Linked DNA regions of Homo sapiens: region 2 is linked to region 1. The links come from fine-mapping of genetic effects on gene expression. Tissue or cell type: testis. Region 1 holds a variant in brackets; the other region holds the start of a gene. All regions are shown on one strand. Distances are from middle to middle.

What was found. PIP is the estimated chance that this variant, and not a neighbour inherited with it, causes the effect.
Region 2: it holds the start of MPPED2, and the variant in region 1 is fine-mapped to the expression of MPPED2 in testis (GTEx, PIP above 0.99).

Annotation. Positions count from the first base shown.
Region 1 is chr11:30,847,522-30,855,706 of GRCh38, reverse strand. All of the region lies in intron 3 of LOC107984419 (a long non-coding RNA gene), which reads left to right. Among named protein-coding and RNA genes, the nearest start is that of LINC02859, 120 kb to the right of the region's middle. The variant C/G (reference allele first, on the strand shown) is at 3,196.
Region 2 is chr11:30,583,223-30,591,407 of GRCh38, reverse strand. It overlaps MPPED2 (metallophosphoesterase domain containing 2), which reads left to right and starts at 5,055. Exons shown (of 7, transcript NM_001584.3): 1 at 5,055-5,366. It overlaps MPPED2-AS1 (MPPED2 antisense RNA 1), which reads right to left and starts at 7,258. Exons shown (of 5, transcript NR_183760.1): 1 at 7,175-7,258. RefSeq lists a silencer at 5,101-5,150.

The DNA of each region.
Region 1 (8,185 bases):
AATTTAGAGATTTTACTGGCTAAGATTTGTCACTTGGACCTCAAATTTTAGGAAGAAAATGCTAGATTATAATTCAAAAGATCAGTTTTACATTTTGTATGTAATATAGCCCACTAGGTGGCATATGAACACATGGAAAACTCGGTCTATGTATTAAAGATGAATCCAGTCTACTGTTTTAAAAATAGGTTTTAAATCCCGTTGAACTATGTGGTTGTAATAGTATTGAAACTCTTAGCATTTGTGAACTGGAAAATTTGGTGGTGACAGAACTGTGTTTCTGTATTAGATAAGAGATGTTCTAATAGAATCCTGCTGCTCCTTTTGATGGAATACCGTTCTGAAATTGCATCCAAGGATGAAAAAGTTGGTACCGTGGCACCCTGTCAAGTAGCTCCTGTTGCTGTGAGGTGTGATTAAAAGACACATAAGCCAGCAGAAAATGTGACACAAAGGGCATCTATATAAAAAATTAACAGACTACGTGATATCATTTAGGCCAGATTTAGAATCACAATAAAGACCTTGTTTTAGTCTGTTTTGTGCTACTATCACAGAATACCACAGACTGGGTAATTTATAATGAACAGAAATTTATTGGCTCACAGTTCTGGAAGCTGAAAAGTTGAGTATCAAGGTGATGGCACCTAACAAGTGTCTTCTGGCCGCATCATCACATGGCAGAAGGCGAGAGGGTGAGAGACGGAGCAAGAGGAGGCTAAAGGCACCCTTCCTAACAGTACCAATCCCACCATGGAGGTGGAGCCCTCATGGCCCTCAGCCCCCAGTACTGTTATGATAACAATTAAAATGTCAACATGAGTTTTGAAGGAGACAAACATTCAAACCATGGCAGCCCTCTTCCAGCATTCAGCATTTCTGGGCTAAGGAAATGGAAGCAGTTTGGATGAGGAAAGGAAGGCTTCCAGAAGAATCCCTCCTCCAGTGGGAGCAGAGCTGTGCCTGTTAAATGACATAGGTTTCTCCTTGACCAAACTCTACTCAGGCTCTTCTGAACTCTTTTTTTCAACTAGTCCTCTACTTTTGGACTTCTGTGTTCATCTTGGCATTGTCTAGCTCTAGCAAGAACACTGCTGGCCGAGCACGGTGGCTCACGCCTGTAATCCCAGCACTTTGGGACGCCGAGGAGGGCGGATCACAAGGTCAGGAGATCGAGACCATCCTGGCTAACACGGTAAAACCCCGTCTCTACTAAAAATACAAAAAAATTAGCCAGGCTCAATGGCGGGCACCTGTAGTCCCAGCTACTCGGGAGGCTGAGGCAGGATAATGGCGTGAACCCGGGAGGCAGAGCTTGCAGTGAGCCAAGGTCACGCCACTGCACTCCAGCCTGGGTGACAGAGCGAGGCTCTGTCTCAAAAAAAAAAAAAAAAGAACACTGCTAAGTCAGTTCAGCTATCCTCCATCTTTGATCACCTTTAATATCTAATCAGGTTCTTCATGCTCCACCATCCCTCAGGTGATGTCACCCTGGCCTGCCTTCAGCAAGAACCCCATTAGGTTGCTTTAGCTGCTATCGCCCTCTTATCCCTAATGTTTCCTCTTACCAGTTTTCACACTGAGCCTCTCTACCCCCCACAACTCTGCTTCTTGACTATAAATTTCCACTTTTCCTTGTTGTACTCAGAGTTGAGGCTACTGGGCTCAGAAAAAAATACCCCAGAGTATGGTGCTTTGACATGCTGGGGACTTTGATCTAAAGAAGCAGCATCAGAAACAAAGTCTCTCTGATCTCCCTCTCCCCTCAGTCCTGTTTCTCTCCTGAAGTGCAAGAAGGGGTTTTCTCTGAGTTTTTCCTCATCTGATTAAGAGAATTCCGTCCAGAAGGGCATGCAATTTTTGTAAACTCTTTCCCTGGAAACTACATTAACCAGAGAAGATTAATTCCTATGCAGGAGAGGAGACTAAAGGCCTCCAGGACCAGGATACACTGCCAGATAGACTTTTCACCTATTCTTCTGAGGGTAGTAACCCTCAGAAGGCTTTATCTGCATAATAAGACAACCTTTGTTTGCAATGCAGTTTCTCCCCTCACCCTCCTGTAGCTTGGCACCACTACCCTCCAGGAGCCTCTTTCTATAGCTCAAACTGCTATTTAAGCTTCAACCATCTGGCCCTTCTTTGAGTATCATATTTTGTATGGCTCCCATGCACATGTGCACATAATACATTTGTATTCCTTTTCTCCTGTTAATCTGTTTACTGTCAGTTTATTTCATAGACTCAAATTACCAAACCTTCAGAGGGAAAAAGGAAAAAGCTCCTTTCACCCCTACAGGTACAGTCACCTCTCTCCTGCACTGCAAAACCCCATCTCAGTTGTCCTACTCCTATTGCAATGGTCCTGAATAAAGTCAGTCTCACTGCCCTTTAACAAGCATCATGAATAATTTTTTCTTTAACACAACCTCTCAGCTGTGGCCCTTGTTCTGTTTAGATAACTAGCAATTTGGCCAAGAGTACATTTGAAGACCTCCTGCCATCTTTCGAACTTAATAAAAATAGCTTTAATAGCTACATGCTTTATGAAATAATATTTACCATCTTTGTTTAAAAATGTTCCGTTCTTTCAACATTTTACTCTAAGATCCTAGATCTTTAGAAAGTTTTTCTTGACTTTCTAGGCCTGGGTAAGTTACCCCCTGCGATGTGCTCCTATAACATCCTATGTTTCTGCTGTTATTGCCTCAATTACACAGGACCGTAACTACCTGTTTAAGACCTGTCTCCCCCTCTAGACTGAAAGCTCATTGAGGGTAGAGAACCTGGCTGCCCTGCTCACCACTATTTCCTCAGGGGGATGCATAGCAGTTCCTAGCACTAAAAAGGTATTTGCTGATTAAACAAAAATGACTTCCGAAGAAAGTGCATATATTGACCTCTAAATTAAAAGTCTTAAAATGTTTGCAAGGGATTCTCCATAACATAAAATTCAAAGTTATTCCCTTCCTTATATTCTCAGATTCCAGCCTCTATTTTTATGATGGTTCTGGCCTTCTGCTTTAAGTCACCACCAGAGCAAATAGCATCCAAAAACCGCCACCCAGAAATAACTTTGGGCTGTGCAAGCCAAATCAGAAGTATTCAATTAAATTAACATTTATTGACCACCAGTAAACATGAGAACCAAACTGTACAGAAAATATTTGGTATTTTATCCTCACCAGGGATGTT[C/G]CCCAGTGCATTATAATGTATCAAAATGTCTTATCATTTTTCTTTAATTAGATACCCTTGGATGGATGTACAAGAAACAGTGTACATTATGCAACAAAGTTTTTCTTAATTTTTGTCAAAGACAACCTTGCAAACAGGACTGGAGCTTCTAGCAGCTTCTGGCAAGGAAATTTTATAAATGAGAATTTGTAGCAGAGGTCACGAGTTTAGTCTCTGACATTGTATCAACTGGATTGGCATCCCAGCTCTACCACTTCCTGTCTTGAGACCTTGAGTACTTTATTTAACCTCTTATGAAGCTATAATTTTAAAAGGGTAAAAATAGCATTTATCTTATGGGGTTATTGGGAAGATTAAATGAAATAACATGCATAAGCTCTTAGCATAGTGGCTGGCCCATAGCAAGAGGTCAATAAACATTAGATATTATTATCATTATTATTTATCAGAATGGCTTTTCTTAGAAGCCTTTTGTAGTCAAAGACAGCCAAAATGAATATTCCATAGATTCTCTCATATATCTTTTGGTTCTGTCCATTAGACCCTGATATTGTTGCTGCAAATAAGTATACATGTGCCCCAAGAATATGCTAGGTTTTTGTATTGAAATCAGGAGCCACTGATAATCATCCGCCTCCTTTTCCTTTTTGGAATAACTTTTTCTCTCTATTATTCCCAAGATTAGGTGCTTCCCTCTATTTATTTAGTTATTCATCTGTCCAACAGACATTGATTGCTAAGTAGTAGGTTTTGTGAATGCATAAATTCTACTTCAGATAATCTGCAGTGTAGAGGGAAAAGTGAAACATGCACATACACATAACTTTAAAAGGTAGAAAGTGATGAGAGTCAGAGGGAAGAGACATAGCACAGTGGAATTCAGAGTGGGGAGTCGCTGCTGTACTATTTCAGGACTCACATTGTGTGCCCATATAGACAGAGAGATGCTAGAGAGGATACAAGAAAAATGGAAGCCACTGTTCTTGTGCTTGTTGGGGCTCGGAAAACAATATCCCGAAATGAAGGCCTCAGAAGCAAGTGTTTTTTTGACCTTCTCCTTCCCTCTTGTCTCTCAGTCCCATTCTCCCCTGAGGCTAGCTTTAGCCAAAGAAACTACAAATCCCTTTTCCCCAAGGTGGGACATAGAAACTAGAACCTCTTTGCCCACAAGCCCTTCATAAAACCTAAAAGTATTGCTCTAATTTTCCCTCTGCCTTTCAAAGTAAAAACTGCCCTAAAATAAATTATCTGACCTACCTTGTTTGACTGTAGTTCATAAGACTCCCCATTCTTGAGAAGGGCCTGCCCCACACCCAGAAGGAAGGAAAGCTGCACAAAGAAGCCAAGAAGGACCTAGACAGACCAGCCTCACTGGGTAACCCCACTTAGTCCACTAGCATTAGGTCATATCCTTTTTGTCTAATCATATTTCTACACAGCTGTTCATACTTTGTTAACCTAAGCATAAAAATGGACACTGTTCTCCTGTATCTGTCGGTCTTCATTCTGAATGCTCCTGTGTATGCACATTTAATAAATGTTTATGTATTTTCTCCAATTAATCTGCTTTTTGTGAGTTGATTTTTCAGCAAACCTTCAGAAGGCCAAGGGGAAAGCTCTCCCTTGTCCCCTACATGCTTAAGGTGTTTGGAAACTTGGAGGGAGACAAAACTCAAACCATGAGTGATTTCGGTCTATATCCCAGCGATTGCCCTGCCTGGCCCTCAACAGACCTTCTAGTTGGAGAAGGAAATATCCTGAAGAATATTTGTGAAAATGAAAACAAAAACACCAAGGCACCAATTTCATGCCTGGACGAGGATGTCTTGAGCTGAAGGAAGAAAATGAAAGCAACAGTTACGGCCTTATCACTATGAACAAGAAAGTCTTATAAGGGTGGAAACATTTTGCTTTATTTTTTTTGTCCCCATAGCACTTGGCTTCAAAGAACAAAAGATGGTGTTCACCAAGCAGACAACTTACCAAAGCCATTTTTTGAAATGATGCCCAATAATCAATATTAATTCAGTTTATATCAATGCATATTTATTAAATTCCTGGCATGATCAAGACATAGTGTTAGATGCTAGGGTAACACACAGACATAATGAAGACATATGATCTCTGCCTGCTCAACCCCAGGACACGACACTGAAGTCAAGTGGGTCAGATGAGATGAGATGGGCACAAATATCCATGCTACAAGGTTTAGTGTGGCAAGTCCTACAGGAGTAATATTAAGAAAAGAGCTGTGGAAGTACATAAAGCAGAGGGAAAGGATTTCTGTCTGGGTTACTGAGGAAGGCTTCATGGAGACAGTAGCGTTCCAACCAGGCCTTGAAGGATGGATGAGATATCAGAAGACTGTGTTGTAAGGAAGATCAATTTACGTGAAGGATGAATTTAAGCAGAGGTGTAGGCAGGGGATTGTCGAATGAATTGTAATATGGTCGAGTTAGAGAAGTGCTTTCCAATCTTTATGAAACCACAGGACCCTTCTTGAAGTGAGATTCTGCAGTGACCCACACTGTGCTTAGAACAGAGCTCTAGTCTAAAATCCTGGTTGCACTAGAAATTCACAAAGCCTGGTTTAATCCCCAGGGTTGAAAACCAGAGAATAGAAAGTCATCCTGGAAAGGCAGGGTGCAGCCTGCTTTGCATATCCAAGAGTAACTGTGGCCCCAGGGACAACCAGGAGCTTTGGGAGGTTTCTGAGCAGAGAAGTGACAAGATGAGCTATACTTTATGAGACTCCTCTGGCAATGATACATAAGATGGGTCAGAACAGGGGAAAACAACTTTATCTTGAAGCAATATAGGTTTATAGAAATTTAATAAGAAAATTATATATCATAATGAATCCCAAGAGCTATAAAAAGTGACCAAATCCACTGCCACAGTCCTGCAGAGGTTCTTTGTGACAGCCTTAGCTGCTAAGAAATTACCTCAGGCTGCAGCAGAGGAAAGAGTGCAGATTTTGTATTTCTAGAAACTAAGGTTGATGATGATATGGTTGAAGGCATGGGTTTTGAACTCACACAGACCTGTGTTTGAATTCCAGCTTTTAACAAAATTTCTTAAGCCCAAATGTCAATTCTCTCACCTGCAAAATCAAGATCGTATCAGCTTTGTAAGATTATTGTAGGGATTAAGTGAAGTCATTTATTTAAAGTGTTGAGCATAATGCTTAGCAATAGTTAGCACTCAAAACATAATTATTCTCCAAGACAAATTAAGTTACCACATTAAGAAGAGTGGGTGCCAGGTAGAATAGCAGAATCATTTACACTGATGTGGTTGCTGGGTTTCCCTTTGCTGATGCAAGCCTAGCCCTGTGCTGGATACTTTCTTCTCTTTGTTGAGCAGGGTTTCCACCAGCAAAGGCCTATTCCAAGGGCCCCAAAGACATTACTCACTTTCATTCCCACCCTCATTTAGTGGAGAGGCTCCTGTCTCTCATGTGTTGATCTGCACAACTAGTTTAGCAAGTTGAGCCTACAACAGAATTCCTAAGCAACAAAAGAGAGAAATGATTTTGTCCATACTATCAAGAAGCATGCTTTGTGGTTACTGTTAAGATAGATTGTGCAGCAAATTGGTGAAGGCCACATGGTGTGTCAGGGTGTATGTGCAGTAATTGAAAAGTATTGCTTGCACACTTTCAGAATCCGGGAAATCTCCTAGCAGACAATGGCATCAAGGAATAAACTGTATCATAAAGGATGGATTTTAGCTGCATCCAGGACAAATGTCGCACACATGCCTGGGGGGGGCGGGTCTAGGAAGGGCTGATGTTCCTGTTTTCCATGAGGCAGAGAGAAGTAAGGAACTTTGTCAAAAACAGCCTCTGTGCTCTCATTTCCTATTTTTAATTTGGCTCATCATTTTAAGCTTCCTCAGATGCCCACCTGGAGAGTCATGGCACGCTCTCACTCTGGTGCTTCCCAAATGTGTCCAGAATCTTCATCAATCTCTCTTGCTAATCCTCACTCCCAAGGCTTAAATCACCCATTTCCTCCAAAGTCTCTCATCTAGCTGGCAGTTGCACCACATTTCCACAATCACTAAATGCAGAAGGCTGAGTGAAGACTTTGTTTGCCTTATGAATTTGTTCTTTGGTGTCCTTGGCTTGGGTCTGAGTGGATGAGCTTTGATTAGATTTCAGAACTGAGATTGAGTTCCTATGGACTCTATTGGGAGCCAGAAGAAGAATGAAGTGACAGAGGGACTGCTGATCTTTGACCTTGGCCCATTGATGGCTCTTGTCATCACTGTTGGTGGCTGCTCTGAACAAAAAATGCATTGTCTCCCCAGCTATTGTGGCCTGGCCTTCACAGTCTGTCTTCGCAGGATGTAACGTTTAATCAGGGATGTGTTCTTCTACCTAGGGCAAAAGGTGGGTGAGGAAGGCAGATCAAGCAAGTTAGCAGTACTCCACAGACTCAGAACTTGAGAAGGAAACATTAGGGAACATGATAATGTTAATAGGAATGAGTTAAAAATTAATATTCACTGCAGTTGCAATATATTAGACATTTACATTGGTTATTTCACTTAATCCTCTCAACTACCCTGGGAAGTTGGTACTCTCTCACTTTTTAGATTAAAAAATCTGATGTTTCATCCTTTTCTCTTTAACATAGGAAACAAACTAGGTAGATCTATGATTCTATGATTTGATCCCAGGCATTGAATCCAGAGTGTGGGAATATAACTACTACTTGGCATTACTCTCATGAATCAGGAGGGCAGTTGAAAACTAAAGTGTCTTTAGAAGCTCTCCTAACTCCTCTGGAATCAGGAAGTCAAAAGCATTCTCTGCGAAAAGTTTCTTACGTTCCTTTCCCACTGTCTACATAGTCACCATCTTTCAAGGCTGTGGTCAGGACCCACTTCTCCGTAACTTCTTCCTTGAGAGATTTTCTGGACTCTCATAACAATATCTCACCCAAATTAGCTCAGGAATTCCTCAAAGCAAAGATATTGATTA
Region 2 (8,185 bases), 260 kb after region 1:
TTACACAGCCATAATTTGCATTCATTTATGTGATGCTTTAAGTCACTGTCTCCCATCCCCCTGAGATTGTATACTTAATAATGTGGAAAGAACTCTGCTTTTTTTACATCATTAGACCATAAGCATGGTTTAAGAACTATGCCCCACACAGAGCAGAGCTTAAAAATATTTGTTGAATACTGAATCAAGCCATTACATTAATAATATAGTGAGAAAAAGGTTTTATATTCTGCTGGTCTCTCAAACTCAGTTTTAAAAAATTGTATCCATTCATTGATTTATTTTTGCTGAGAAAGAAAGTTACATTATATATTGCTTTCTTGAAATACAGATATCTTATGCTAGATTGCCAAATTGAATTATTAAACTTGGAAATGCTCACATACCTTTTCTTTACCAGGTTTTAATGGGGTTTCTATACTGCTCATCTTTCAAGAGAGATTATTTTGAGTTTACTTCAATGAGAAAGCTCTTTTCCACCATGACAAGCCTATCCCAAGTACGACAAAATTTTACCATTTTCCCAAAATTGGGACCATGACATGGGGAAAGACTCAGCAAGCATTAATTGATTTAAAATGAGAAAAGAACTTTTATTGAGGAATGTGAGTCCTTTTAAATTATCAGGCCTAGAAAGACATTAAAATGAGACAGCAAGTCCATCCTAACCCCCAGCTTTTGAGCTATGTATTCATCTCTTGAAATAGCTTGTTATTGTCCCTAGCAGCTATAAATTAACTAATAATGCTGCACTGGAAACTATAACTCACAGCCTATAGCTTAACAATGTCTAGCCAACCACTAATCAATGCTTTTCTGTAAACCAATGAGAATTCTTTACAGAGAACTTTGTGTCAGCCTACTCCCTGTCCCCCATATTTGGCTTTAAAAATTTGCTTGTAACAAAGGCCAAAGGAAGCTCATATCCAATGTTACCTGGGTGTGAATCTTCCAGGCAGTTGTCCTCACACTTTGGCTCAAGTAAACTCTTTAAATTATATTTTGTGCCATAGCCTATTCCCTTTAGGTCAACACAGAGATTATGGATGTCTGTTAGAATGGTTACTAACACTAAGAACACATGAATCCAGACTCAGTATCATGTTCAGACTTTTAAAATTAATTATTGCATAAATAATTTTCATCTGATTTCTTGATACATGCTAGATATTGGCTAGTAAGTATGTTAAGAATTTGTGAGTGTTTTGCTAAATTTTAAGATTCTTCCCCAATGCTTGCTACTTAAGCTGCAGGCAAAACTGAATTAAATTTAGCCTTTCTAAGATGATAATGAGCATGACATTTATTTTATGAAATGAAATTTGATCAGTTCTAGTGTTTCCTGATTCTTTTTTTTTTTTTGACCCATAAACATTTTTACTGGTTAACCAAAGAAAATTTTCAATACAAAGTACCACCCTTGAAAAAAAATCATATATTTATTTTGAGGATTTCAAAAAGGATCAATCAAGGAATTAGATTAATTATATAAGTTTCTTTTGAGAATGGCTTGATACATTTCTGTACATTTTAAGGAACAAGTTTTACTTGGAATTCTTTTTATTGTGGCATCCTGCTGTATTTAAAAAGAGGGCTGCCTTTAAATGGACATGATACATAACAAGCTTGTCTCTCTATAAGAAAATTAATTTGTAAAACAGTCTTAGGATTATTCCATATTTCTAAAGGCATTAGCAAGACCTTTAAAATGTGCTATTTTAACTCCTTGGGAAGTCCTTAGCTCTTATCCTACAACACTGCCTCATGACATCACTTCCTCTCCCACAGATCTGGTGTGGATTTTTCTTAATTCTGTATTTGCCTCATTCACTGGTGTGTTCTCTTCTTTACTTTCTCATTTATTGACCCACACAGTCATTTAACAACTATTTCCAACATAAAGATAAAGAACTCAAAGAAATATAGGACATTGTTATTCAACTTGGAGGGGTCATAATAAAAACATTTGAATGAACATAAGAACTGTGAGAATTCAGAAAAATAAAATAGTTTGTTGAGTTTTATTTTCTAATTACATCATAGTGGTAGTTCTATTAAGAGGCTCTGATTTCTGATAATATACATCTTAGCCTTTGCTGTAAAATGATAGAAATGCTTACAACTTACAGAAAAAAAGAAATAAAATAGTTGCTGTTTGTTCCTGCAGTTAGACTGGTACATATCATTTCAATGAAATTATTCAATAACATGCAGTAATTTCAATGGATTGCTTTTTAGAAGAAGAACCACAGTATTGAACCAAGTTTTAAGTCATACACATCTCTGAAGTACAGGAAAACCTGTTCTCATAGGGAAGATGAAAGCCAACTCCAAATAAAGTATTGAGCTTTCAAGGGAAGCATCATTTTCTTTCCAAGCTTCCACCCAAAGTTCTCCCACGCTCCTCTTTCTCATTTTCTTTCCTAAATGCATTCTGAAAAGATAATTTAAAAGGTATTGCAGTGGGCTATCAGGAAGCATATTTACCAGTTCCTTCAATGAAATCACTGGGGAAAGGGTCCAGCTTTGAATTCCATTAAAAGAAAAAAATTGTAATATTTCCTTGAAGCCAATCATAAACTTAGTATTTGATTTTCATCCTTCTTTTCTTTTCCATTATACACAATAAAAGTTGAATTTAACAACAACAACGAAAATGGAACTTATAGACTCACTTATCTTTAAAAAAAAGCTGAAGCTTATAGGATTTAAAATTTGATATAATGAGGTAACATTTCAAAGCTTATATGGGAGATGGGATAGACATGGTTCACATCCAATAATTTTAAATTAAGCTTTTAGTGTAGGTAGCTGTATTTGTAGACAATATGATTTAACAAAATGCAATATGTTCAAATCCACGTAAAGAGAATTATTTGAAAAGTGAGTGTCTTTTTGTTCCTGGTTTATTATTTAAATTCATTTTCATATCTCCAGCTTGCTAGTAGCCTAATGAAAATAAAATTTCATAATCCAAATATAACTTGGTCACTATTGGATAATTGATCTATCAGCAGGTTGACTTCTTCCAGCACTACAAATTACAATTTTAAGCCTTTTTACCTCAATTTTCCCCACTCAGTAAAATGGTATACAAATTTCCATCAACTTTGTAATGGATAACCCACTTGATTTTTTATGGCATTAAGTATCCTGTAAAATGTACCACTAAAGTAGAAAGCATTATTATTTACTGTCTGGGTGCACATATTTAGATTCAGAATCATGTTCAAACTAGTTTGTCTGTTTTGTTTGACTGCAATTTTTTTTAAAGAAGGAAACCACAGAAATTATTTGGCTGGTGATGCTTTTTTTTTTTTGAACTGATTAAATCAGCCCAAATCAGTCTAAAAATTCAAACTATTAAGATATGAGGAATGTAGTACTCAGTCACAGAGTAAAGGAAACAAAACCAAGCATTTCTTCAAAAACGTGATTCTAGTCAGTGTTCGCTGATGGGCTAGAAAACAAAAGAAAACAAAATTTAAAGGTGCCTCTATGCCCCCATCTTTGGCATCCTTTAATGTCAATGTCACTTGTTCTGATTTGTGCTGGGCAAGGAAAGACACTGTCCTTTCCACCCCAGCACATTTGACAAGCACTGACACTCTGGGCATGCTGTAAAATAAAATAAATACATTAGTAAGACCATTTCCCTTTTCATTTCAGCCTAGGCATAAGAGATGGGTTACTTAAAATTCAAGTGCCAGGAAAGCCCATTGTAAAAGGGAAATATTTTCAAGTGAATTCCGTTTGATCTTTTTTTATAGGGGCTCCTACAAGCCTCTCTCCCTTCCTCCCCAGACCCTGGAAACCAATTAGTCTCAGCACAGAGGCCACAGACCAGGTTGCAATGGCTCCTTTTTATTTTTAGGGGGTATAATTTCAGCCAGGATGTCTAGTCAGTTGTCACATAGTATACTTAGCACACTTCTCTCTCACACACATATATATACATTGGATTTCCCTTCAGAGAATGCACAGATCTTTCAGTCTGACTCCTAGAAAGGAATTAGATCTGGTTGCTGTCCCAATCTTTCAGCAATGACAATGGCATAACATCACAGGGCCACCTCATCTTTCACAGACAACCCTGCCAACCAAGTTTTCTAAAAGCCTTCTCTCCCTTGTTTTCTGTCTTCCAGCATTTCAGCGGCATTTCCTTTCCTTGTGTTGTTTGTACAAAATTCTGAAAACCTTTTCTTCCATTTTCCAAAGTAGCAGACAAAACTGGACTAAGTTTGATTTTTAAAATGCTTTTGACATGCTTATCTTTTGGGGAAAATTTTATCCAAAAGACGAAAATGGAAACAATTAGAGTCTTTGCCTCTCCTCACCTTCCTGTCCTGAATCTGCCTTAATTCATGGAGGTAAAAAAAATGATCAGCTGGGTTGGCCTTTTCTTTCTCAGCAACATTGCAGAGAGAAAGAGGTGAGTGTGTGAGTGAGTGAGTGAGCGTGTGTGTGTGTGTGTGTGTCTGTCGTGTTGAAAGGCTTGGGGAAAAAGGAGCACAGCTCTCCCCCAGGAAAGCCTCAGATCAGCAGATGGGAGGGAACCTAGGGTCGCCTTCCTAGGTCTGAGCGAAGTGTCCCAGCCGCTCCCCTTACCCCTGCGGTGAGCCCTGCGTCCTGGAACGGTGCCAGGACTCCTGACAGAGCCTGGCAGGTCGGTGGGTGGCGGGGAGCTGGGTGTTCTCTTTGCAGAAGAACACCATTTGGGAGAAAGCTCCCTTCTTTTCCTGGGGCACCGTAGCCCGCCTTCCTTCCCCTATCATTTTTTACGCAGATCGCACTCATGATGATGAACTTGCAGCTCAGCTTCCTGCCGCCTGCTTGACCCGGGAGCACCAGCAGGCTACCGGGCCTCGCCCTCGGCTCCCTCCTCCTCTCGAAACCCTGGGGCTTCGGGGCACCGGTGGGGGTCCGAGTGGGCAGGGACTGCGGGAGGGGCGTGCAGGGGCGCGGGGTCCCGCCGGGGAGCGCGCACGGAGCGGCGCCTCGGCCGCCCTGCTTCCTGGAGCTGTGCTCCTTTGACCCCAGTGGCAGTCCCTGTCACTGCACCGCTCGCTCTCCCTCCGGCTCGCCGCGCCCTCGCTCCCTCTCCTCGCCCCCTCGCTCGCTCTCTCCCCAGATCGAGGCTGCTCGGGTCCTTTCTCCCCCCGCCTCCCTCTAGCGCCGCGCCCCCTGGCCCCCAGCCCCAGCCTGCGGCGGGACCTCCGGGGTCGAAGGTTCTGGCCCGCTCGCGCCCCTCGCCGCCCCCGCGCGCCCCCAGCGCTCCTCCAGCCGGCTCGGGCCGCTCGGCTATGGATCGCCTGCTCGCCGGGCGCTGAAGGCATCCCCGGGATCCGGAGCGCAGCCCGGGAAAGGTAATCCGCCCCGGGAAGGGAGGCGGAGGGCGGGGGAGGGGGAGGAGGCGGCCGGGAGCCCGGTGCCGAGCACTAGAGGAAGGGAAAAAAATGCACACACAAAGCGGAGCCCGGGTGAGAGGTGCCTTGTCAGAGGCGCGTGCGAGGGGCTCGGAGGCTGCGGACCCGGGCTGCCCCGGTGCCCCTGACATCCGCACGAGCGGGCGCCTCCCGGGCAATTCGGCGCTCGGGGAGGGCTGATTTTCAACCCCTGAGCGAAAGCAAATTCTTTTTTAGGAGGTGTCTTCCCTCCGACTCCCCATCCTGCGCCTCTTCTCTTCTCCACCCCCTCCAGCCATCAGTCCCCCGACCTCTGGGGGTCCCCACCTCTTCGCTCCCTCCTCCGCCAGGATTTCTTAGGAGGAGAGGAGGGGGTATCGGCGAGAAGCTGGGGAAGCCGGGCGGCGGGGATGGGGGTGGGGACGAGGGCTCAGCGAGCTGTTTACTAGAAAGTCCCGGGGTGATGTGTTCGAGCCGCCCCGGCCTAGGCCTGGGTGCATTGTGTTGGCCCGATCCCCGGGCTCCCGCGGCGGCCCGAGGCCAGGTGCAGTGACGAGGGGAAGGCACCGCGCAGCTTTGTGCTCCGGCTGCGCCCCGCGGCCGCCCCCGGGGCCGCCCGCGCGCGCCGCTCTCGCTCGGGGCTCTTTCTCACCCCGTCCCCGCGCCCCAACCTCACTCTCCGCCGCTGCCTGGGTCTCCGCGCTCGCAGCCTGCGGAGCGACCCGGCGACCCAAGCTGGGGTCGAGGCTAGGCGACGGGGGACGAGTACCGAGGAAAAGTAACCGTTGCCGCCGGATTTCTTCTCTACAGAGGCAGGAGTTTCTTTGCTATTTACGTATAACAAGGTTATCTTTGTAAAGCCTTTGAATTCCGGGGTTTTGCGGCCTAGGAGGTGAAGGGGGCATTTTTCTAGAGGCTCAGGAGCCGGTTGGAATCCGTCAGCAAGAAAATAAATTAAGGATGCCCCAGTGAAGTTGATTTATAATAGTACATCACCACCCCCCTCTCACACACACACCCCAAATTAAGTGCAAATGCGGGTCATGAAAAATGTATAATTGATTTGAGATGCTGCAAACAAACACAAACAGGTCGGGGGGGTGGGACAAACAAAAGTTTAAGTGAAAAAAGATGTCAGAAGAGGGGGAGATCCCGTGGCCTCCACACCCCCTTCCAACGCTCGCTGGCTCCCTCCCTTCCTTTCTCCGCCGTTCCAGGGAAGGAACCTGGCAGCGCCCAGGCGTAGAGCAGGGAGGAGGCGGCGGCCCCGGGCTCGGGCTCAGCGCTGTGGGTTCGGGGATGCCAACGCGCCCGGGAGGCTGAGGTCGGGGACGTGGGGCTGTGATGCCCGACCGAGGATGGCGTGGTGTCAGAGCCATTGGCCGCCGGTGGTCATCAATCAATCCAGAGCTAGGGAAGAGGGAGAGAAAAAAGATAGGCGTCCAGCGGAGCCCGGGGCCGCCAGCGCTAGCGCCAGCAGTGCCAGCAGGAGCGGCGGCCGAGGAGGTGACGGAGGTGGCAACGGGGGACTGAGCGAGTAAGGCGCTGGTGTTTCAGGAAGGAAGGGGAAGTTGTAGCCGGGAAGAGCCAGCCGTGAGCCTAGAAGGGCAGGGCGAGTGTATGTGGTGTGTGTGTGTGTGTGTGTGTGTGTGTGTGTGTGTAGTTCATAAAGCACCCCCCACCCCGCCTCGCGCAACTGCCCACCACCCTAGATTTAAAACAAACAAACCAATCCAAAGTAGAGAATTCCGCGCCCCCCACCGCCCCACCTTATATAGACTCCACGAGTTGCCAGAGGCTCCGGAGAAAAGTCTTGCCCTCCCTCTCCGAAAGAATGTGTCACCCGGGTGTCCGCAGTGCTGGAGACAAGTTCAGGTGTAAGTGCGGTGGGAGGGAGGGCGCTCGGTGGACAGAAGCACGTGGAACTTTATGTCAGCCTCCCCCAAAAAAACCCTGGCGGAGAAGCCCGCCGGGAAGGCGTGTGGGCATCGCTCCCAGATACAGGGATGAGTAACTGGAAGTGGGCATAAAAGAGTAGGGGCGTGAATTAAGAACGCACTGGATCTGCGCGGCAGAGGGAGGAGAGAGCGAAATTTGGCGGATTTGGAGCAGGCAAGTTCCAAAGTCCCGCCAGGCTCGGTCTGGAGATCTTGGGGCAAGTGATTAAAATGAGCATCCTTGTTGAAACGAGAAAACCGCGGGCTCTTTTCTCATAGGCTGTGCTGGGCAGTGCAGGGGTAGAGAGGTCATGAGTTGTTGCTTTGAAAGTTTTGGTAAATTGGACTTCTGGTGTCTAGGAGGTGGAGACAGTTATTTAATTCCTCAGCTTTTAATCCCTTCATTGCCAGCCGACTTTAAAAGGTTTTCCAACTAGATTCCTGGAAAAGAATATTGCTAGTTGTACAGCTTAAAGGACAGAAGTGATTGCTGTCTAGGAAATGCAAAATGTACTCACATGATTTTCTTTTTAAAGAGAAAAATCAAACTAGCACCAGCATGAATGTTTGGCAGTGTCAGTCCCTTTTAGATTTTTCTTTCGGCTTCTTGATATTTCGTCCTGGGTTCCTTTGTTTTGTGGAAAGTGTGTTGAAGTATAAAATGAAAATTTATGAAAAGAATAGTGCTGTCTTTAAATATTGTGTGTAAAAAGTTAAAGTAAGTGTGAAGAGGGTGAGATGCACGAAAATCTGATCATTTGGAAGGTTTTACTGCCTAAATATACATCTTCTTGATAGTTGTAAGCAGTGTATCCTTCTGTCTTGTTTCAAGCTCTCTCCAAA